Linked DNA regions of Homo sapiens. The protein of the gene in region 1 purifies or fractionates together with the protein of each later gene. This does not show direct contact. Each region holds a gene or a part of one and is shown in the gene's direction. Other genes may lie near its edges.

What was found.
Region 2: the proteins of PCIF1 (region 1) and CAMSAP2 purify together in Homo sapiens (affinity purification with mass spectrometry; one large-scale study listed by BioGRID and IntAct). This does not show direct contact.
Region 3: the proteins of PCIF1 (region 1) and PARP16 purify together in Homo sapiens (affinity purification with mass spectrometry; one large-scale study listed by BioGRID and IntAct). This does not show direct contact.
Region 4: the proteins of PCIF1 (region 1) and TUT7 purify together in Homo sapiens (affinity purification with mass spectrometry; one large-scale study listed by BioGRID and IntAct). This does not show direct contact.

What each region holds. Positions count from the first base shown.
Region 1 is NC_000020.11:45,931,990-45,938,610, forward strand, and holds the start of PCIF1 (mRNA (2'-O-methyladenosine-N(6)-)-methyltransferase), read left to right. Parts: upstream 1-2,693; 5' UTR 2,694-2,815; exon of another isoform or gene 2,816-3,082; intron 3,083-3,209; exon of another isoform or gene 3,210-3,376; intron 3,377-5,428; 5' UTR 5,429-5,596; exon of another isoform or gene 5,597-5,709; intron 5,710-6,621. UniProt on the Homo sapiens protein: Cap-specific adenosine methyltransferase that catalyzes formation of N(6),2'-O-dimethyladenosine cap (m6A(m)) by methylating the adenosine at the second transcribed position of capped mRNAs.
Region 2 is NC_000001.11:200,849,596-200,855,489, forward strand, and holds part of CAMSAP2 (calmodulin-regulated spectrin-associated protein 2), read left to right. Parts: coding exon 1-639; intron 640-2,945; coding exon 2,946-3,082; intron 3,083-3,679; coding exon 3,680-3,900; intron 3,901-5,221; coding exon 5,222-5,294; intron 5,295-5,894. UniProt on the Homo sapiens protein: Key microtubule-organizing protein that specifically binds the minus-end of non-centrosomal microtubules and regulates their dynamics and organization.
Region 3 is NC_000015.10:65,263,990-65,269,883, reverse strand, and holds part of PARP16 (protein mono-ADP-ribosyltransferase PARP16), read left to right. Parts: intron 1-3,115; coding exon 3,116-3,322; intron 3,323-5,894. UniProt on the Homo sapiens protein: Intracellular mono-ADP-ribosyltransferase that plays a role in different processes, such as protein translation and unfolded protein response (UPR), through the mono-ADP-ribosylation of proteins involved in those processes.
Region 4 is NC_000009.12:86,291,058-86,296,951, reverse strand, and holds part of TUT7 (terminal uridylyltransferase 7), read left to right. Parts: exon of another isoform or gene 1-1,654; intron 1,655-5,894. UniProt on the Homo sapiens protein: Uridylyltransferase that mediates the terminal uridylation of mRNAs with short (less than 25 nucleotides) poly(A) tails, hence facilitating global mRNA decay. Essential for both oocyte maturation and fertility.

The sequences.
Region 1 (6,621 bases):
GCCTGAACCCTAGAGGCGGAGGTTGCAGTGAGCCGATATTGCACCACTGCACTCCAGCCTGGGCAACAAGAGCGAAACTCCGTCTCAAAAAAAAAAAAAAAAAAAAAGATTGAACTATCCAGGGCCACTGTGTCCACTCAGACCAGTCACATCGCCTGAATCTAGATCCCTTCTTCACAAAACAGGGAGGCCAGAGTGGTTTAATGGAACCAGCCCTGCATTTTGGTGTTGAGAACTCCGGGCTTAAAATCCCAGTTTTGTTACTTGTTGATGGCTGTGTGAACCTGGACAATGACTTCGCCCCTGCCCCTCGCTCCAACCTGTTTGCTCATGTGCAGATTTAGGTAATAATTCACAGAATTCCATGATAAAACAGAAGACTAGGCACTTGGGATGTTTGGTATCTTGGTTATCAATTAAGAGAATCTGAACAATGAATGAGAAAATACTTTGAAAACATAAAAGAATAGATAAAAGGCCGGGCGCGGTGGCTCACGCCTGTAATCCCAGCACTTTGGGGGGCCGAGGCGGGCGGATCATGAGGTCAGGAGTTTGAGACCAGCCTGGCCAACATCGTGAAACACCGTCTCTACTAAAAATACAAATAAAATTAGGTGGGAGTGGTGGCGGGTGCCTATAATCCCAGCTACTTGGGAGGCTGAGGCAGGAGAATTGCTTGAACCCGGGAGGCAGAGGTTGTAGTGAGCCGAGATCGCGCCACTGCAATCCAGCCCGGGCGACAGTGCGAGATTTCGTCTCAAAAAAAAAAAAGGGTAATAATCACTACATGGTTTTTAAACTTTAGTGAAAGCGCGGGCTAGCTGGGGGGCATGAGCATGGAAAACTGGTTATCCCGTAGGTCAAGAGCGACCACGTAGTTTACTGCCCAAAGCAGTACTTTTTTTTGAGACAGGAGTCTCACTCTGTCGCCCAGGCTGGAGTGCAGTGGCGCGATCTCGACTCACTGCAACCTCTGCCTCCCGGGATCATGTGATTCTCCTGCCTCAGCCTCCCGAGTAGCTGGGATTACAGGCGCGCGCCACCAGGCCTGGCTCATGTTTGTAATTTTAGTAGAGACGGGGTTTCGCCGTGTTGGCCAGGCTGGTCTTGAATTCCTGACCTCAGGTGGTCCACCTGCGTCGGCCTCCCAAAGTGCTGGGATTACCGGGGTGAGCCACCACGCCCGGCCCAAAGCAGGGCACTTCTGAAAAAGGAGGCAATATTAGTAATTATGCCAGGGCAGCAGGCATAAATCAAAGCTGGCCCCCCACCCTTCCAGAACTGAGACAGGACCCAGGAGTCTGGTTTCCCATCAGGCCTCTTATCTGAACGAGAAGCTCTGCGAGGGCAGAACTGCTGTGCCTATATAGAGCTGGCTTATTTCTGGAGGGCTCAAATCTACTTGGAGCAATGCTCATGCCACTGTGAGATGATCACGGCTAACCGATTCAGCACTTAGGAAGCGCCAGGTATTGCGCTGAGGACTTCACATGCATCACCTGAGTTAATTCTCACCAAACCTTTATGAGGTAGGCGGATTTATTATCTTCCACTGAGGAAACTAAAATTTAAATTGGTTAACTCCTTCAAGGCCACACATTTTGGGTGGAGGAGCAGGGATTGAAATCAGATGAGGATCATGAACCCTCGTTCTCAATTACTACTCATATCGGTGCCTCCGTTTTTCTTGAGCGTCCGCCTGCCTGCCCCCACGCTGGCGTGCAGCCAGGACCATGGACATCTGAGAGGCTACTCAGCCGGGGTACCTACAGCCCCTGGCTCCACACAAGCGCCGGTCTGACAGCAGGTGGCAAGCTTTTCCTCTTCTCAAGCTAGCACTGGAAGGGATGCTTGCTGGGGAGACCGGAGATGGGTGGAGCTACCACTCGGACGCCTGCAGGCTCCTACCAAAAAGAATCCTGCAGGGAGCCGGATGAGGAGCACCTCACAGCTGCCAGTTCCCTGCCAGGCTACCCGCTGTAGCTGGTTTGAGGGCTCAGTGAGGCTTTGAACTGCAACTAATGGCCACAGATGTCAATGTTGGAAAGGCCCTACAATGCATTTAGTTGATTTCCCAACTCTGCCGAAAGCCATCTCTATTACTTGCCCCCGAAGGCTAGTTTAAGTTGCTTCTACTCAAGAGCATTTACAGCTTGGGTTCGATGTATATGTAGCCCGGGCATGGGGCAGGGCTTCTTAACATTTGGACACCACGCAGCACAAAGGCCCAGAGAGGGAAAGAGACTGGCTGGAAGAGGCAGAGCCGCGCGGGTGCCAGGACCCAGGTCCTTGCTACGTCCGGAGCCTACGTCACCACGATGCCTCCCCTGGGCCGGCGGCAGAACCCGAGACCCCCGCAGGTTCTAAGACAGCCCCCACGCCCCCCAGTGCGCACGCTCAGTCCAACCCCGCCGCGCACCGCCCACCGCGAACATCCGGCTCCTGCGTGTGTGCTCGAGGGGGAAACTGAGGCGGGGACGTGCCAGTGAATTCATTCCTTCCTCAGTCCACCCGCAGGCCTACAAAGCTGTCTCCCCTTCCTCAGCGCCACAAGGAACAGCAGGGACGGATGGGAAGAAGGGGAGGGGGCCGAAAGCAAGCTGGGTGCGAGGAGCCAGCCGACCCTGCCACACTCAAGATGGCGGCGCGGCCGCGGCGAGGTCCCTCAGAGGCGGTACCAGCGCATGCGCAGCGCGGAGTCCCGGCCCGGGACACAAGATGGCGGCAGCGGCGCTGGGGAGGGCGAGGCGGAGGCGGCAAAACGGGCGGTCGAGCAGAACGTGTAGCCGCGTCCCCTCCAGTCCGCTCCGGGCAGGTAAGAGTCCCAGGAAGCCATGGTCCCGCAGCGAGCCGCGCCAGGGTCTGGGGATCCGAAGCTGGGGGGCGGCGGCCCCTCCGGCGCTTTCTGCTCGGGACTGCCGCTTGCCCTGTCTCTGTTGCCGCCGCCATCTTAGACCCGCGGGTGGGCGGCCGCGCCGGTGGCCGAAGTGAGGGAGGTGGGCCCGGAGAGCCCCAGCGGAGCGGGCTCTAGGGCCCCTCCGCTGCTGCCGCCGCCACCGCCTTTGTGTCGGGCTCCGACTCTGAGTCGCCTCAGCCCGGGGGCGGGAGCGCGCGGCGGGGCGGGGGGCGGAGCCCGAGAGATGGGCCGGCGCGCGCGCGCGCGCCAAACAGCCCACCCTCGCTGGGGTAGGGGGAGGGGAAGGTGCGCGCGCGCGCGCGCGCTGGAGCTCGCCTCTCGCCTTCGTGCGCCGTCGCGCCTGCGTACTTTGTTCGCCCTTTGACTCCTCCCTACTGGGCCGGAGAATTCTGATTGGTACATTGCGGAGATGGTCCCGCCCCACGTGCCTCCAATCCCGGACTCGGACTCTGGCTTCTGGTGGGTTTTTCTGGTTGCGCAGATAGAGTTGTTTATCCTTGAGCAGCGGTAATTCTCAAACTGCGGTATGCGTGGGGGTCGGGAAGCCACAGGATAAATAAAGACGTTAACTTAAGAGCAGTTATGTCTTACTGGGAGCGTACAATGCTGGACTCTACATATAACGGTCGAGTGATTCCGGTTTATAAGCCGGAAAGCAGAAGGGCCCGGAATCCGGGTCTGTCCAACCCAGGGGCTGGTACTTCGGCCACAGACCTGCTGCGCTCAAGTCACATAGGAAATTAAAAATGGTTTTAATTGCAAAAAATGGGTACATTTTTTCAAATAGTGTGAAAAAATGAGTCATCCTGTCTCCCAGTCACTCTTACGGTGCGTTTTAAAAATACAAATTCTTGTGTGCCTCACCTCCGTATTTATTTCTGGCTTCTGAGATGCGCAGTGAGGCACAGGAGTCTGATTTTTTTTTTTTTTTTACAAACTCCAAGATGATTCTGATGCACAGCTGGCTTTGGAAATACTGCAGTGTCCCCATTTAGCCTCACACTAAGCTGTGCCGCTTGTGCGTATTCTGCAAAGTTCATCTACCCGGTGCATCAATATCACAGGATGTTTCTTGGGGAAAATATTTTTCAATAAAGGCGAACAAGATGTGTCACATAATGTGTTTGCATGTTTTTGTTTTTGCAAGACATTATTCAGAGCGTGTCTTTGACTTGCTGTGGGAGGCTTGGGATTGTGCCCCCACAGATCAGTGATAGGTATGTTTGTTGATTTTTCTCTGGTCTAAGGGTACTTTATTTTATTTTTTATTTTTATTTATTTATTTTGAGACGGAGTCTTGCTCTGTCGCCTGGGCTGGAGTGCAGTGGCGCGATCTCAGCTCACTGCAACCTCCGCCCCCTGGGTTCATGCCATTCTTCTGCCTCAGCCTCCCGAGTAGCTGGGACTACAGGCTCCCGCCACCACGCCGGGCTAATTTTTTTTTTTTTTTTTTTTTGTATTTTTAGTAGAGACGGGGTTTCACTGTGTTAGCTAGGATGGTCCCGATCTCCTGACCTCGTGATCCGCCCATCTGGGCCTCCCAAAGTGCTGGGATTACAGGCGTGAGCCACCGCGCCCGGCCTCTTTTATTTTTTAAGAGATGAGGTCTTGCCCTGTCACCCAGGCTGGAGCACAGTGGCATGATCATACTTCACTGCAGCCTCGAACTCCTGGGCTCAAGTGACCCTTCCACCTCAGCCTCCTGAGTAGCTGGGACTGCAGGTGCAATTTTTTTTTATTTGGGCCCGGCGCAGTGGCTCACACCTGTAATCCCAGCACTTTAGGAGGCCCAGGTGGGTGGATCTCTTGAGGTCAGAAGTTCGAGACCAGCCTGGCCAACATGGTGAAATCCCGTCTCTACTAAAAGTACAGAAAATTAGCCAGCTGTGACTCATGCCTGTAATCCCAGCTACTGAGAGGCTGACACAGGAGAATCGCTTGAACCCAGGAGTTGGAGGTTGCAGTGAGTCGAGATCGTGCAATGCACTCCAGCCTGGGTGATGGAGTCTCACTCCGTCTCAAAGGAAACCAAAACCAACCAAACAAAAAGCTTTATTTGTTGTAGAGCTGGGGGCTCACTATGTTGCCGAGGCTGGTTTTGAACTCCTAGCCCAGCTCCCAAGTTGCCAAAGCCACGTGCCCAGCCTAAGGGTACTTCAGTTGGCAGGACTGGCTACAGAGTTTGTGGGGCCCAGTGTGCAAAATGTAAATGTGAGCTCCTTGTTAAAAAGTTATTAAAAATTTTAAGACAGTGACGGCAGAGCCTTACACCAAGCTCAGGGCTTTCCTGAATGTGGATCCCTGTGCAGCCGTGCAGGTCACATGCCCATGAAAGCAAACCTATTGGTGAGAAAGCTTAAGAGGTATCATTTTCATCCCCTGTATTCCCTCATCCCCTCTCCCGGTGTGTCCTGCCCTGGAGGCCCCCAACTTGCTCTTTGTTTTTGTCCCTCTTGTCCCTGCCCTGCAGCATCCCACAGGTCTGTGACTGTTTTCCTATTTGCTTTCCAGCTGCTGATGCAAGGAATCCCCTGGGCTCCCGTCCACTCCACTGCTGACCAGCCCATTCGCCTGTGCTGAGTCTTCCTGCAGGCCTTTCCTTGCCTCTGTGGGACCCTGTGGGGGTCCATCCGGCTGGAGAAGAAAAGCCTCTCATGCTAACGTTGCAGACCCCAGAGGGTGAGAGAAAGGGGGACTTCATTCAGTCTTGAAACCTGTGTGCTCAGCCCCCAAGGCATCAGGAATTCTTCCTGCCCAGAGAATCAAGGCAGCTTCATTTTTTTCGTACCTTGGTCAGTGGTTCTCAACCTTTTTGTTATCAAGGCACTTTTTGTTGTACATATGTCCTGTTGCCCCCTGCATTTTTATCTGCCAAACTGTACTGATGGAGTAACCATTGACTTTTCCCTTCCTAAATTAAGGAAGACGTCTATGATGGAGTGTACAATAAAATCAGTGTCCCAATGATTCGTATGATGTCATCAACAACCAATCAGAGCTTCTGATCAGCATGAGATAATCAGTGTGACCACAATGAGTTGATAAAATTTCAGCATGAAAAGATAACTGATGTTTAAGCCTGCCTTTGTGGTCTTGTTGTGGGCAAAAGTTTGATTTCTTTTGGGTGGTGTGACCTACTGAAAACAACTTTAGCATCACCAGTTCTATCTCAGTTAGCTCCCAGTTGTCTGACAGCCCCAGGCCAGAAGCACTTTGGCTCCTGAGGCTGTTGCTGGGTGTGCTTTGGGTGGGGGAGTAGGGAATACAGATCTGAAGGAACTGGCCTCCTTGCTGGTACTTACAGTAAATATTCACCTGGGGATTATGAAGGAGTCAATTAGATAGTCCTTCTTGGTTGCATTGGTTATTTTAGCAATAGCTGCTTCCTGCCATGTAGTGTAAAATAAGGTGACCAATTAGATTCCATGCCCTTCCCTAGTGTGCTTTGTTCCTTTTAGATTTTACTGGATGAGAGCAGTAAAATCCCATCTCCTTCTGGGAGTTGTTACTATTCCTTCTTGTAGGAATCGCTTCTCAAGGGCAGACCCTGTTCTGTCTTTTTTGCTGCTCTTGGTGCTTTGTAAATATTTGCAGAATCAGTAGTGCTCCTGTTGGGTCCAGGTCCTAGGCCTGAGCACAGGAGAGAGCTGAATTGGACGCAGTTCCTATTTCTGGAAGTTCTGACAGTTTAGTGGGGAGACAAA
Region 2 (5,894 bases), on another chromosome or scaffold:
TCAGCCATTGCACCATTCTCCTCAGACTCCCCTCGTCCTACTCACCCATCTCCACAGTCTTCTAACAGGAAAAGTGCATCTTTTTCTGTTAAAAGTCAAAGGACTCCTAGGCCAAATGAGTTAAAAATAACACCTTTGAATCGAACCTTGACACCTCCTCGGTCTGTGGATAGCCTTCCTCGGTTAAGGAGGTTTTCACCAAGTCAAGTTCCTATTCAAACTAGGTCATTTGTATGTTTTGGGGATGATGGAGAACCTCAGTTAAAGGAATCCAAACCTAAAGAGGAAGTTAAAAAGGAGGAATTGGAATCCAAAGGGACTTTGGAACAGCGTGGACATAATCCAGAAGAAAAGGAAATCAAACCTTTTGAGTCAACAGTCTCTGAAGTCCTATCACTGCCTGTCACAGAGACTGTATGTCTGACACCAAATGAGGACCAATTGAATCAACCCACAGAACCCCCTCCTAAACCCGTTTTCCCACCCACTGCTCCAAAAAATGTTAATCTGATTGAAGTTTCCCTCTCAGATTTGAAACCCCCTGAAAAGGCTGATGTACCTGTTGAAAAATATGATGGAGAAAGTGATAAAGAACAATTTGATGATGACCAGAAAGTATGCTGTGGATTCTTTTTTAAGGTGTAGTATTAATCTGCATAGTTTTGGGCATCTTCATTAGATGAGTGTGGTTGTGTTGGATATTTTTTTTTTCAGTTGACATGCTTGCTTCTTTCAGTAGCAGTCCCTTTTGATACAAGTTCATCCCCATTAACTATAGTAACATTCAAGCACACTGTGGTTTCCAGTATGGACTCAAAGCTGTAATAAATCCTTTTATCACATGTTTAGATGTATTCCTTGGTTTTGCTCCTCTACTGCTCTTTCTCACTCACAAAAGCCTTTTAAAAATTAAGCTACTCAGATCTCTTCAGAGAATGATTCCATTTTGTCTCTTAATCATGTAACACTGCCATTTTTTTTAACAGAATGCTACTGTAGACACTAATAGATATTAAAATTTACTGCCTAGAGACTCTGTTCCTTGCAGAGGAAGGGAAACAAAGGGGAAGAAAATCATTAGTATAAAACAGGCAGTACCTCTGTTGCTTCATTTCTATTCCATTTATTTACACATCTTCACCACCCCATTACTCATCTGTTGGACTATGGTTACAGCTTCTTGACTGGGCTGTCTGTCTCCAATCATGCCATTCCAGTCTTCATACTGCTACTAAAGGTGATAGTTCCAAGAGCATAGCTCCAATTGAGTCTCTTTCTAGTCAAAAATCTTGCCTGTTGAATAAAGTTCAAACCCTTTAGCACAACATTCAGGGACTTTCACAGATGAACCTAAATCTTTTTGTCTAGCTTCTTCCCCATAATTTTATTTTGTATTGTTCTTTAAGATTAACTTCAAGCTTCATCTAAAGCCTTTTATAATTCCTTCAGTCGAGGTCAAATGTTTCATCATTTGTGTATCTATTGTATCCTTAAATATACTCATACCTGTCCTGTGTCCCGGAGTTTTCAACTGTTTTGTATGATTTGCTTTGTCTCTTAGACCATGACCTCCTAGAGGTGCTGCATCTTTTTATTTTTATTTATTTATTTATTTATTTTTTGAGACAGAGCTTCGCTCTTGTTGCCCAGGCTGGAGTACAATGGCGCAATCTCGGCTTACCACAACCTCCGCCTCCTGGGTTCAGGCGATTCTCCTGCCACAGCCTCCCTAGTAGCTGGTATTACAGGCATGCACCACAAAATAAATTTTGTATTTTTAGTAGAGATGGGGTTTCTCCACGTTGGTCAGGCTGGTCTCGAACTCCCAACCTCAGGTGATCTACCCGCCTCAGCCTCCCAAAGTGCTGGGATTACAGGCATGAGCCCCCGTGCCCAGCCAAGGTACTGCATCTTTTTATCCCCATAGCATAATAAAGTGTCTGGCAAACTACAATATATGTAATTTGATAGATGAAGACATATGAATGTTTGAACTAATTGCTTGAATGGTATCTTCTGACTTTCTCCATTCAGAGTTAAATCTCTCTCTGGGTTTCCATACAAAGCCTGTTGTTTGTACCTCTTCTCCTTGTGATTTTTTAGGCTCCTTGACCTGAGGTACCATATATTTTAATATATGTAATATCTGACACTATGTTGTGAGTATGTTAGACACCAAAGAAATGTTTATTGAATTAAGCATTGGCAGGGACAGTTGACAAGGAGACATTAAGACAGTGAACCACTTCTACAACAGCTTGTTACTTTGCTGAATTCTGAAGCATTTTGGAAGCCCGCTGAGAACTAGGGCTGTCCCTAAGGATTCAGGTAGAAACTAGGGCAGGCCCAGGAGGCCTATAGATAATGAACTAGCTCTCAAATTAAAAGTACTGTAGAAGGGAAGTATAATCATCCCCATCTTTTCTTCAATGGAAAAATGTTCATTATAGTTCAGAACCTATCAAGCAGACTGTCAGTACCTCAACTTAAAATCATGCAGCAATAGTTTCATTTATGTGCTACAACATTGGGTGGCTAATTTTGGGATGTTTTTACTTGAGGTATTTTTACTGAGCTTATATTTTAAATAAAATTTAAATGCAATTTTAAAAATTGGTGGGGGAACTACCTACTGTAAGTTATTAAATTAGGGTTAAAAAAAATTTGTGCTTTTTTGTTTTGTTTTTATGGTTGTTCTTTGCAAATCTCATAGGTTTTGACAGAGTGTAATTAAATAAGTTTGCCTGTCCTCTTTTTTGATGGAACTGTTACCACTGTAGTTCCGTTCTTCCTTCATAATTTCTCAACCACACCCACATTCAGAAGGGTTGTAATAGTTCAAACTTTCAGTTATAGGACTAACCACAAAATGTGACTACAACAATTGAAAATGAGAATATTGGTACCTAAAATGTTTGATCGTTTTCAATGAAATTCGTTCTTAGGATGATCAAAAAGCAGAAAATGATATGGCAATGAAACGGGCAGCTTTGTTGGAGAAAAGATTAAGAAGGGAAAAGGAAACTCAGCTCCGGAAACAACAGTTGGAAGCAGAAATGGAGCATAAGAAGGAGGAAACAAGGTAAAGGAAATTGCTGGCCCAGTGCTAGATCTGAACTTTAATGATGCATGGGCATATTTAGAAAAAGTTGGTAAGTACTCAAAGAGGTGGTCTCTCATTAATTTTTATTAACAGATTTCTTTCAGAGAAGTTTGTAGTATAGATAGACAGCTGGATCAATGCTATTTTTTGGTGCTTTGTAGAAATCAATTTATTTTCCCAAAGTATTGCCTAATTTTATATTTTTATCTTAAGTTTAAGGCATCTCATGGGAAAGTTCTCTAGAAACATTAATTTAAATAATTATATGTTTAAAAAACATTAAAATAACTTTCCTGGGAGATACACACACACACACACACACACACACACACGACCTAAATTATCTCAAATACCTTTATTTTTATTTATTTATTTGACTCTTCCTTCCCTCCTTTATTTACTTATTTATGCTTAATCCCATGTCTCAGCAGAATCGTCAAGTACCTTTTAAATGAACCATTTATTCACCAAGGTGATGAAATAGAATTCTCCTTTCTCATATCAAATACATAACTCTCTCCTGTATGGTTTGTCTTTGGTATGCAGAATAAGAACTGTAACCATTTGATTTCTTAGGCGTAAAACTGAGGAAGAACGTCAGAAGAAAGAAGATGAGAGAGCACGCAGAGAATTTATTAGGCAAGAATATATGAGGCGGAAACAACTGAAACTAATGGAAGATATGGATACAGTAATTAAACCCCGTCCTCAAGTAGTAAAACAAAAAAAACAGCGACCAAAATCTATTCACAGAGATCATATTGAATCCCCCAAAACACCAATAAAGGGTCCTCCAGGTAACATAGCTTATTATGAAGAGTCTGTTCATAAAAAACACCAGCTTGATTGGTTTGTCATACTAACTTGGTTGTACTTTGATGTGCAAAATTGGATACACAGTTTGAGATTGTGCATGCTCCCTTTTGGAAAACCAAAATGAGCAAATGAAGTTTTTAATAAATTAAATGTATTATGTGTGCATGCATATATTCAGTAGAACAAATGTGAATGCTAAAAATCAAATCTAAATATTAATCTATTAGGGAACTGTGCCCTCAGATATAATCTCCTTGAACTATTAACTGCCCTTTACATACTTATAAATTTAAATAAATGTTATATGCATGAAATGTACAAGAAACATGTTGGTATAATAAGGAATGCAAGATCAAGAGTTCACAAGTCCCTCCTTCAAGATAGAAATGGTTGAAAATCCAAACTTATAATATCTGGAGTTGAGAGAATATATTTTCTTTAAAAGTCAGTATACATACTCATTATTACTATTATTATTTTTTGAAACGGGGTCTCAGTCTGTTGCCCAGGCTAGAGTGCAGTGGTGTGATCATGGCTCACTGCAGCCTCCACCTCCCTGGGTTCAGGTGATCCTCCCACCTCAGCCTCCTGGGTAGTTGGGACTACAGGTGAGTGCCACCATACCCAGCTAACTTTTTTGTATTTTTTGTACAGATGGGGTTTCTTCATGTTGTTCAGGCTGGTCTCGAACTCTTGGGCTCAAGTAATCTGCCTGCCTTGGCCTCCCAAAGTGTTAGGATTACAGGTGTGAGTCACTGCGCCTGGCCATACTCTTATTTTTAAAAAAATCTTGGGGGGCAGGGATAAATTCGTAAAAATAAAAGAAATCTTTATTAAAACCAAATGCCATGGAAATTTTTTAGAGAATTCTCATAGTTATACTAAACCTGAGGAAAAATAACATAATATTGACTGTTTAAAGAGAACTCTGTTTTCAAGCCTGTAAAACTAATTGATATAATTTTCTACCTAGAATTTAGATATTATGAAATTTTTTTTTGTTATTGTTTTTTTCTTTAGGATCACAGTATCACGTCTCATATTAACACTTTCCTTTTGGAACGCAAGTTAGTTTTATCATTGTTTCCTAAAAGTAGGTTCCTTGCTAATTTTAAATAAATTGTGTATATATGCATGCAAGCATATTATGTGTTTAAAAGTACAGAGAAAAGGAAAAGAAACTACAGAAGCTCAATTTTTATATGCTGGTGTTATCTAATGAACAGACTCTTTGCTAGTTGCTCCTTTTAAATTTCTGATTTTGTTTTTATTCAGGATCATGAATTTATCGTGTTTTTTCAGTCTCTAGCCTTTCTTTGGCATCGCTGAACACGGGTGATAACGAGAGTGTACATTCAGGCAAGAGGACGCCAAGGTAAATCTATAACGTATGAATATTTTTACAGAAAAGAATATAGTACCTGCAATTATACAAACTCTAAGTAAAAATTCTTCAGTGTTTTTACATTTTATAATGACCAAATCATAATCACAAATTTTACTAAGTTTTGCTGACTTAGGACTGTTAGAGTTTCTGTTAAAATAAATTATGTAAAGAGGTGTCTATTCATCTTTCAGTGCTTGTCTTTTAGAATTTAGAATTATTGACATTGATAACATACTTTTTATAAGCTATGAAACATTAACAGTAATTATACATCAGTAATTGCTAACATGATTATTAAATCACAGTCAGTAGAATGAGAGTACCAACTTCTCTAGTCTATTACCAACTAAGACAAAGGAGTTTTCCCCATTAGAATAATTCCAAAGTGGGTTGCCTATGACTTAGGAAGGATCTCTTTTGTATTTTCTTTCTCTAGGATTCTTTCTCTAGATTAGAAGCTAAAAGTCAGTATTTTATTACTTTATACTATAATATCATATCAGAAAAGAACATTTCTAGTGACAGTCATCATCTTAGAGTTCTTATCTTTGTATTACCATCCTTTGTGTTATTTGCCAGTTTTCACAT
Region 3 (5,894 bases), on another chromosome or scaffold:
TTACCTCATATGGGCATCAAGCACCTACTAGATGTTGGGTGCTAAAGTAGATAAGGCAATAAATAGCTCCTAGACTTTTGATTGTGGACCAGTTAAATTTCTTTTAAACTGTGGGGTATTGGGACCCAGGATTGTCAACTTTTTGTATTGCCCAAGTAAGTATGTTAGCCTACCATGTATCATCATTTTATAAAAGGATATTATAGTACTAAGAAAGGAGGATGGCCTTGACTTCAGAATGAAGAACAGTTCTTCCAAAGAAAGGTACATGGCAACCTTACATCAATATATCTGTTATATAGCCCTTATTTTGCTCATTCAGTCATAATCCAGAGAAAACTTTGCCATAGACTGGCTTTGGTCTGTGACCTACTATTTGAAAACCACTGGCTGGGTGCGGTAGCTCATGCCTGTAATCCCAGCACTTTGGAAGGCTAAGGTGGGCGGATCATGAGGTCAGGAGTTTGAGACCAGCCTGGCCAACATAGTGGAACCCCGTCTCTACTAAAAATACAAAAACTTAGCTGGGCATGGTGGCGGGAGCCTGTAATCCCAGCTACGTGGGAGGCTGAGGCAGGAGAATCGCTTGAAGCCGGGAGGCGGAAGTTGCAGTGAGCCAAGATGCCGCCACTGCACTCCAGCCGGGGCAACAGTGCAAGACTGTATCTCAAAAAAAAAAGAAAGAAAGAAAGAAAGAAAGAAAGAAAAAAACCGACTAAAATGGGCCAGGTGTGACCCATTGTCCTGGCTTGTCTTGGGTAACTGGGACTATAGGTGTAACCACTATAGAGAGGAAATTCACAGGTCTACAGTCCCCATTCCAAATAATACTAAACTCTACAAGCTCACGCCTGTAATTCCAGCACTTTGGGAGGCCAAGGCAGGCGGATCACTTGAGGCCAGGAGTTCAAGACCAGCCTGGCCAAAATGATGAAGCTTCGTCTCTAATAAAAATACAAAAATTAGCCAGGCATTGTGGCACATGCCTGTAATCCCAGCTGCTCGGGAGGCTGAGGTAGGAGAATCGCTTGAACCTGGGAGGTGGAGGCTGCAGTGAGCCAAGATCGTGCCACTGCACTCTAGGCTGAGAGACAGACTAAGACTCCATCTCAAAAAAAAAAGAAAAAACCACTGAAATGGACTAGGGGGCAGTGGCTTGCGCCTGTAATCCTAGTACTTTGGGAGGCCAAGGTGGGAGGATTGCTTGAGGCTGGAGTTCAAGACCAGCCTGGGCAACATAGCAAGACCCTCTGTCTATGAAAAATTTAAGAATTAGGTGCACATAGTAGTTGCACCTATAGTCCCAGCTACTCAAGAAACTGAGGATAGAGGATTGCTCGAACCCAGGAGTTCAAGGCTGCGATGAGCTAGGATCACACCACTGCACTCCAGCCTGGGCGACAGAGCCAGATCCTGTCTCAAAAACAACAACAGCAACAAATGCTAATTGCTTCTCATGATTTTGTGGGTTGGTTGGGTGGTTCTGGGCTTGGCTGGATGAGCTAGGGTGGCCTCACTTACATTTCTGGGGCTTCAGCTGGGATGGCCACCATGCTGGAAGCCTTCCTCTGTGAGGCTCATACTCTATAGCAGACAAGCCAGGACAATGGTGAGGGGTTCTCAGCAGCAAAGAAGGAAAGACAAGCCCTTCTCAAGTCTCTGTTTGCTATATATATGTTAATGTCCCGTTGGCCAAAGCAGGTCACATGGCCAAGCACAGTCTTAAGGGTGGAGAAGTAGGTTCCATCTTTTGATGGGATCTTGGTAGAATCCCACCTGCAAAACCACATTGCAGAGGGGTGCATGGACAAGGATGAGAGGGAATTTTTACAATAAACATGAGATGATTGTAAAAATGGAATGCAGGAGATAGATGTAAAAGTGTTAGGAAGTGGCCGGGCGTGGTGGCTCACGCCTGTAATCCCAGCACTTTGGGCGGCTGAGGCGGGTGGATCACGAGGTCAGGAGTTCAAGACCAGCCTGGCCAAGATGGTGAAACCCCATCTCTACTAAAAATACAAAAAAAATTAGCCAGGGGTGGTGGCACGCACTTGTAATCCCAGCTACTCCGGAGGCTGAGGCAGAGAATTGCTTAAAAAACCTGGAGGGGCAGAGGTTGCAGTGAGCTGAGATGGCGTCACTGCACTCCAGCCTGGGCGACAGAGCGAGACTGTCTCAAAAAAAAAAAAAAAAAAAAAAAAAAAAGTTAGGAAAATTAGAAGTGATCTCCACTTATTTTTTTAATTATTATTTAATTAATTAATTTATTTATTTTTTGAGACGGAGTCTCGCTCTGTCGCCCAGGCTGGAGTGCAGTGGCGCCATCTCGGCTCACTGCAAGCTCTGCCTCCTGGGTTCACACCATTCTCCTGCCTCAGCCTCCCGAGTAGCTGGGACTACAGGCGCCCACCACCACGCCCGGCTAATTTTTTGTATTTTTAGTAGAGACGGGGTTTCACCGTGTTAGCTGGGATGGTCTTGATCTCCTGACCTCATGATCCGCCTGCCTCGGCCGCCCAAAGTGCTGGGATTACAGGTGTGAGCCACCGCACCCAGCCCTGTGATCTCCACTTAGAAGGAGCAATTCATGCTTCTCAGCCTACTGTAGGGAAAAATGTTATTATTTATTATTATTATTTTTTTAAATGGAGTTTCACTCTTGTTGCCCAGTCTGGAGTACAGTGACGTGATCTCTGCTCACTGCAACCTCCACCTCCCAGGTTCAAGTGATTCTTCTGCCTCAGCCTCCTAAGTAGCTGGGACTAAAGGTGTGCACTGCCACACCCGGCTAATTTTGTATTTTTAGTAGAGATGGGGTTTCACCATGTTGGTCAGGCTGGTCTCGAACTCCTGACCTCAAATGATCCACCTGCCTCGGCCTCCCAAAGTTTTGGGATTACAGGTGTGAGCCACCACACCCGACCGGGAAAAATGTTATTAAAGAAAGCAGTCTTGTGCTATACGCTCTGAGTTTGCTTATGTCTCTATCCTCATGAAACCTGTTGTTCTCATGAGCAGAGTCCATGGGAGTTAAGCCTGAGAGTTTAGGGGGCTATTTTTGCAGCACATTTACCAGCTCCCCAAATAAAATTTTGATGCTCTTCATGTTTTCAAGTTTGAAAAGATCCAAAAGCTGACTGGGGCTCCTCACACGCCTGTTCCTGCACCGGACTTCCTGTTTGAAATTGAGTACTTTGACCCAGCCAACGCCAAATTTTATGAGACCAAAGGAGAACGAGACCTAATCTATGCATTTCATGGTAGCCGCCTAGAAAACTTCCATTCCATTATCCACAATGGCCTGCACTGCCATCTGAACAAGGTGGGGCCTAAGGGACACCCTGCTGATGTGGGGAAGCAGGGATGGAGGTGGGAGAGTGGGGAGGGGGAGATTCAGAACCCTAGGAGTTTGCAGGTGGGGTCGGGTAGGTTTACTAACGCCTTCTCACTCAAAATGTGGTCTGCACACCAGCAGTGGCAGCATCACCTGGAGACCTAAGAAAATGCAAAATCTTGGGCACACTCTAGACCTTCTGAATCAGAACCTGCATTTTAACAAGATCTCTAGGTGATTCCTGCACTGGTTATAGTTTGAAAAGCGTCGATTTAAAGATAGTTCCCGACCTTGGCTGCATATTTAGAATCACTCGGGGAGCTTTTAAAAATCCCAGATGCCAGGCCTGGCGCAGTGGCTCACGCCTGTAATCCCAGGACTTTGGGAGGCTGAGGGAGTTCCAGACCAGCCTGGCCAACGTGGTGAAACCCCATCCATACTAAAAATACAAAAATTAGCCGGGCATGGTGGTGGGTGCCTGTAATCCCAGCTACTCGGGAGGCTGAGGCAGGAGAATTGCTTGAACCTGGGAGGCAGAGGTGGCAGTGAGCTGAGATCGTGCCATTGCACTCCAGCCTAGGTGACAGAGTGAGACTCCATCTCAAAAATTAAAAAATAAAATAAATAAATAATAAAAAATCCCAGATGCCTGGCTGCATCCCAGACCAATTAAATGAGAATCTCCGAGTGGAGCACAGGCATCAGTTGCTTTAAAAGCTCTCCAGGTGATCCCACTATGTAGCCAACCCTAGCTCCACTGTGCGTTCCCTGGACCAGCAGCGTCTGCATCACCTGGTAGCTCGCTGGAAATGCGAATCTCAGGCGCAGACCACCTGATCGGAATCCACACTTTAACAAGGTCCCCAGGTGATCTGTATGCATATTGAAGTTTGAGAAGCACTTTCCTTGGGGACCACACTCCAGGAAATCAGCCCTTGGAGAAACTGAGGGATATGCCAAGATGCACCGAGGAGAGGTCCTTTCCCTCCCCTCTTGAGCTGCTTTTGTCCCATTTTTATGAGTCAAAACAGTCATCTATCCACTTCTCTGCAGGCATTTATTTTACCCCTCAGGTATAGGAGGAGCATTACAGACAGACCCTGGAGCTACAGAGACTTACTTAGCAGCTCTATGGCCCTGAGTAAATTAAACTCTCTGAGCCTCAGGTTCTTCATCTGTAAAAAAGGACACCATTACCCTCCTTCTTATATGTCAGAGAATTAAAACAGTTCATGTATGCAAAGGGCTCTTTGTGTACTAAGTACCAAGGAAGAGGTAGCTGCTTTTATATGCTGATGGAGGGGCATCTAGGGTAGTTGGAGGAGCTGCAGGCCTTTCCCCCAGTCATGGCAGTATCTGCCTTGTCTGTGAGGAGCTGGCTCCATGAGCCATGGGCTCAGTTGTGGCTGCTGCAGCCCTGAGACTGGAGATATTTCCCTGGTGTATCTGGTTAATGTCGTTGGGTTTTGCTAAGGATGACGGGCTTGTTTACACTGGCTCTCAGTCCACCACTGGCTCTCAGCTTACCATTATGTCCAGGCTACTGGAATTCAGGGGGCTTCCCCTTTACACTGGTGCTGGCCTGGAGAAGTTGCCTGCAGATTATACTCTTGTACACTAAACCTTCATTTTAGTGCCCCAGGGAGTTTGCTGCTTAGAGGCATCTTACAAAAATCCTTTGGTAAAGCACATCAATCCTCCTATGGCCCCTCTGCCTGGGTTTTCAGTGAAGGGCTTGCTTGAGGGAGTCCATCTGCCAGTTGATACTGATACTGTTTTCATGGCAGAGATACACTGAGCTTCCCACTCTTGTACACCACTGCTCATGGCAGCCTTGCATGGGGTTCTCAAGTCTAAGGAAGGGTGAACACATGATGGCATAAGCAGAGAATGGATGTGGGGTCAGATCAGAGGGCATCCAGTGTCATTGGAGAAGGTCTGTGTCAGCTTTTGAGAGATGGAGACCCTGCCTAACTTGGCAAAGAGCTTCCCAAAGGCCAAGCAAAGGTCTGTTTCATTTCCCCTAAGCTTCACTTAACAGATTTAGGATTTTGGAAGCCTGGTGCTACTGAAAAGGACATTTCTCAATTCCAGAGCATAAGATATTCTTCAGTGAGCTATTCAAGTCCACTTATCTTGAGATACTGATAGTGTGGCTCAGGGATAGCAGTTGAATTTCAACCTGAGCGTCAATGTCCATCCATTGGTCGCAGCTACCTGGAATGTTAAGTTGAGGATTCTGGATCATTAGGAATAAGTGCCATGCTTGATATTACTGTGCTGGCAATTGTGGTTTGTTATTGGTCATCTACCATGGGCAAAGATGTGTTCACTATGCCTGCTGTAGCCTCAACTTACAGGTCCTTCACCTGGCATGCTTCCTTATGGAGGGCACCACCAGGGAGATGCTGCCTAGATTTTTAGATGTTTTCTTGGTCAACCCCAATACAAAGAGTAAAACGTACCTTGCCCCGCATGTCGGCCTCCCTCATTTTGTTATAGTTTCTGGTCTAAGAGACTAATTTCTAATTTATTTATTATTTTTAATTTTTATGTTTTT
Region 4 (5,894 bases), on another chromosome or scaffold:
TCCTATCCAATAAATCAGACTCTTCCAAATAAGTATATGTCAGATGATATAACTGTCTAGTTTATCTGTGATATATGTATCCAAATTATCTATGTTGTTATAAATGTGAACTGTATCTCACCTGTAAGTGGTGTTAATTTCCCCACAGCTCTTCCTTTCCATAGTATTAAGTATGTCTTTGGCCCACTTGTAGTTTCTCAAGAAAGCATGTTGATACGGACAGCCCCTACTCTCATATATGGTGTATTGACCTTAGGCAAGAGATGTGGTTTCTCTGAGCTCCAGATATGTCATCTATAAAATTGGTGTTAACACCGTTTATCTCATAGGGTGCTAAGAAGATTAAAGTACTGCCCAGAGTAGGCACTCAGTCAAGTTCTCTTTCCTCTCCTGATACCTACCCCCATCCTTTCCTCTAGGTTGCATATAGTTCTTTACTCCCAAAGGAGATCACAGTAGATAGAAAATCCCATGAATGTCCTTGCTCTTCGTTGTTACCTCCCTCCCCCTCTATCCCCCACACATAATGCCTTAGATATTCAGTAGGTTTTATTGATTAGAGGTGAACTTATTTGGAAGGAATAAAAAGACAAAGCAGGAGAATGGTCAAGAACATGAGTTTTAGAGTGAGACACTTGAGTTTGAAATCCAGCCCAACCATTTACTAGTTGTGTGACCTCTATCAAGTTATGCAACCTCTCTGTGCCTCAGTTTCCTTTTTGGCAAATTGGTGCTAACACCTCACAGGACTATTGTAAGGATTAAGTTCATGTAGATAAAGCACTTAACACAGCATCCGACACATCTCATCACTCAATAAATTATCACTGCCCTTTGTTACTGTGGTTAACAAACACTTGCTGTAATTTCTCTCTTCTAACTTATAGGACAAACAAATAATGGAAATTTTTAACATAAGTATGTAGAGATTGTGGTACCACAGTGATAAACTGATTTTTATGCTTAAGTTAATGACTCTGGTTTATGTATGACAATTTATTCAGTATGAGAATCTCAGAAAACTAATGTTTTTTTCTATTCCTTAACCTTCCTACCCTTTTTTTGGTAAAGAAAATTACCGAAAAAACAAAAAACAAAAAAAAAACTACCTCTGTCTATTTATTTATTCCATTTTAATCTCATGGCTTGAAATCTGAAAAATTGGAGTTGCTGTAAGAGATTGGTGGATGTCTTTTTGCCCTCATGGTGATGTATTCTTTTACAGCTTTTATCATTGACCAGAATTTTAAGGCCTGCTTATTTTAAAAAACGAAAACCAGTGTTCTTTATGATAATAAGCTTAAAATAATAGAAATACTTTTTAAAATAGTATGGGGAGAGCTCATTGTCAGTGAATATAGATCATTCTTGTTGATACCCTTCTTTGAATATTCTAGTGTATTAATATACCATTGTTTATTTAATCATGTCTTATTAATGGACTGGCTGTTTTCACATATTTGATATATCAAGTGTCTTCACAACTTGTGCTTGCATATTCTTTCCCAAAATATTGAAAGTCCATATATTTCCTTGTACATTTTTAAAGTTGATATCTAAATCTTTCATTGTAGTTGCAAAGCATGTAATTTCTTGGGGGAGGGGGGCTGTAAATATTGACATTTTAAAATAAAACTTTTAAATCAGCCTTAAATGTATCAAATGAAGTATAAATATTATTGCTTTTTCATACCCACCATCATTTATATACAGCTCAGCTCTTCTTTAACAGGCAAAAATTATATATCATTTCCCTTTCCTCCTTGAATTCCTTTGTTGTACTTCTACAGAATTTCAGCATAAGATGATATATTTTGTTTGTTTGTTTGAACTTCTCCCTGAGATGATATATTTTTATTACACATATTTTCAAATATTTTATTGAGTAGCTTATCATGCTTATCTGCAACAAAAATGACAGGGGCAACAAGCTAGGCCCTATTTTCTATAAATTGAATTTTTAAGCTTTTTATTAAATCTCAAAGGATGAAAATATCTTCTATATTGAGTTTTCACAATTATTAGAATATATAATTGATCAAAACAAATGTTACAAATTTTAATTAAAAATTACTTTTTTTTTTTATACCTAATGCTAAATGACGAGTTAATGGGTGCAGCACACCAACATGGCACATGTATACATATGTAACAAACCTGCATGTTGTGCACATGTACCCTAAAACTTAAAATATAATAATAATAAACAAATATTAAAATAATAATAATAATTACTTTTTATGTTTACTTACAACGACTTTAATAAGAAAGATGAGATTTTTTCCCTATACATTCACATATCTTTGGGTCGACATTATTTACTGCGTGAATGAAACTGTTCCTTTTCTATCCCTAATTTTTTTTTATAGTTGATAAAAATGGAAAAACCCCAATATTCTTTATGATAGCAAATTAAAAATAATAGAAATACTTTGAGTTTGGGAATAGAAGATATATTACAATAGTGCCACTCAATTATTTTGATTCCTTCTTAATTACATGACAAAAAATCACAGTGATGTATCATCAAAAATTATTTGTAATGATCATCCACTATCAATGTAATTTTATGAAAGCTAAAAATTTGGATTTTTATTAGAGGCATTTACATTCACCACAGACACCAGCATTTTGTTTGCCTCTCCTCTTCTCTGGGTTTTTTTTTTTTTTTTTTTTTGCCTCATGGCAATACACCACAGTAGGATTTGGCTGGTTAGGAGATACGCCTTTCTTTTGTAAAGTAGATAAATAATTGTGAAAGGGGAATTAGAAAGGACAGGTGGAGTGATTCCTGAAAACCAGCCTAAGCCTTGACCACAAAGGCATTCACAGACATATAATTTTTAAGAAAGAGTACACATGGAAGTTGAAGAGCTAGAAATTGACTCTCTTAAAACTATCCTTGCGGCCGGGCGCCATGGCTCACGCCTATAATCCTAGTACTTTGAGACACCGAGGCGGGTGGATCACCTGAGGTTGGGAGTTCCGAGACCAGCCTGGCCAACATGGTGAAACCCCATCTCTACTAAAAAGACAGATTTAGTCAGGTGTACTGGTGTGCGCCTATAATCCCAGCTGCTCAGGAGGCTGAGGGCAGGAGAATCACTTGAACCTGGGAGGTGGAGGCTGCAGTGAGCCGAGATCAAGCCACATGCCCTGTCAGGTAGGCTCAGGAACACATGGGCCCAGGTTGGAAGAGCACCATTTATATAAAACACTCTAATGAATAGTCGCATATTTGTCTAGTTATTTCATCAGGATAAATTCCCGCTCATAAGAATGATAGGTTTAAAAGTATGCACATTTTGACAGTGATGCCAATATTCCCAAATTGTGATTGTTGACAATCCCGGAGAGTCAGTGACATTGTTTCCCATACCCTGACTTCATTGGGATAGTCTTTTTTCATTTTACACCTGCTTGAATTCCTATTATTACCATTGAACTTTACCATTTTTTTTTACATGATTTCATCTATCTTTCTTTGTACTTTTGTATTGGAGTATTCTTGACAGGGTCTCACTGTCGCCCAGGCTGGAGTGCAGTGGCTCAATTATAGCTCACTACAGCCTTGAACTCTCAAGCGATCCTCCCATCTCAGTCTCCCGAGTAGCTGGGACCATAAGCTAGTGAGACCACACTCAGCTGATTTTTAAAATTTTTTTGTAGAGACAGGGTCTCGCCATGTTGCCCAGGCTCGTCTTGAACTCTTGGGCTCAGATGATCCTCCTCAGTTTCCAGAAGTGTTGGGATTACAGGCATGAGCCACTCCACCCGGCCCAGTTTATTATTTTAACCTCACTTATATGTGTTTGCCATACAGATGAATGTTTGTTTTAATAGTGTGATCTAGCCAACTTTTGCATGGTTTCTTATCATGCTTACCAAATTTTATAAATGCCATATTATTCCTCTATATTATATAAAAATTCATTCATGTGTTATTTCTAGTACTTTTGTTTTTTTACATGCAAATATTTTATATTCAGGTATAGTGAAGATTTTTCTGATATAGTAGATTACATGTTTAAATGCTACAGTAGTAAAACTACTAGTACTATACTTACCAAAGGGTTTAACATTTTGGGAAAAACAGAAACGGGCAAGTAGCAGTATAACAATAACTAACTTACCTTCTAGAGAATTGGCATTGTTTTTCAATTTTTTTTTTCTTTTAGAGAGAAGGGTTTCACTCTGTCACCCAGGTAGGAGTGCAGTGGCACAATCATAGCTCACTGCAACCTCGAACTCCTGGGCTCAAGAAATCCTCCCACCTCAGCCTCCCAAGTAGCTCACAGGCATGAGCCACCTGTGCCTGGCTCAATCTCTTTTTTTTTTTTTTTTAATAAAAGACCTGTCACTGAGGTAGTGGAAGTGCCTTGAGTACCATCACCAACATCGTTTCCTCTGTCATGTCCCTCTCAACCCTAGAAACATCCATTATTATGAGGTTAAGTCTCCAAGTTTCCTTTTTTTTTTTTTTGAGACAAAGTCTCCCTCTGTCACCCAGGCTGGAGTGTAGTGGTGTGATCTCTGCTCACTGCAGCCTTCACCTCCTAGGTTCCAGTGATTCTTCTGCCTCAGCCTCCCAAGTAGCTGGGATTACAGGTGTGAGCCACTGCACCCAGCCCCTTCTGGTTCATTTTTTATACTCTTTCATATGTACTCCTTAACATATGTTTCTCCTTGGTGAATTTTTAAATTAAAATGGCATATCATGGCATATAATAAGAATGTCCTACAAACCAGGGATGGTGGCACGGGCATGCAGTCTCAGCCACTCAGGAGGCTGAGGCAGGAGGATGGCTTGAGCCCGGGAGATCTGACACTGTAGTATGCAATGATAGTGCCTGTGAATAGTCACTGCACTGCACTCCAGACTGGGCAACAAGCTAGACCTCATCTATTTTAAAACTTTTATATGGTGCTGTTTTTATATTTGGGTTTTTTTCTTTACAGTATTCCACCCTGTGAATAAAAAATATTCTATGTATTTATTACCCAGTTTTAGGTTGTATTCAATATTCTGCTGTTATTAACAGTGCTATAGTGAACATCCTTGTGGAAGTCCCCTTGAGCATGTATGAGAGATTCTTTAGGGTTTGTGTGTCTACAAGTCAAATCGTTAGGTCATAGCTTATGTGCATTTTAGTTAGATTCTATCAGATTACGCTTGTATTGGCTGAAATAATTAGAACTCCCACCAGCAGTGTGTGGGTCATTTCTATGTATTCTTCCAAATACTTTATTTATTAATTTTTCAGAATTTTCATTTTTGCAAGTCTGATGGATGAAAACTACTTTGGTGTTGTTCTCATGTGTATTTGTATGACTCTGGTGATGCAAGGGGCCCTTTTACTTTTTTTTTTTTTTTTTTTTGAGATGGAGTTTCGCTCTTGTTGCCCAGGCTGGAGTGCAATGGCACAATCTCGGCTCACCACAACGTCTGCCTCCTGGATTCAAGCGATTCTCCTGCCTCCTGTCTCTCGAATGGCTGGGATTACAAGCACATACCATGACACCCGGCTAATTTTTGTATTTTTAGTAGAGACAGGGTTTCACCATGTTGGCCAGGCTGGCCTTGAACTCCTGACCTCAAGTGATCCACCTACCTCAGCATCCCAAAATGCTGGGATTACAGGCCCTTTTTACATGTTTATTGGCCATTTGGAGTTCCTCTTCTGTGAATTGTCTGTCCAAATCATTTGCCCATTTTCCCATTGAATTATTTCCCTATTAATTTTTAAAGGTTCTTCATTTATTCTGAATACCGCTCTTTTATTATTATATAAATTTCAAGTGTCTACCTGCAGTATATCTTCTGTTTCAACTTTTTGTGTGTATTGCCATTCCAAAGTTTTTAATTTTGAGATAATCAAATTATTAGTTTTCCA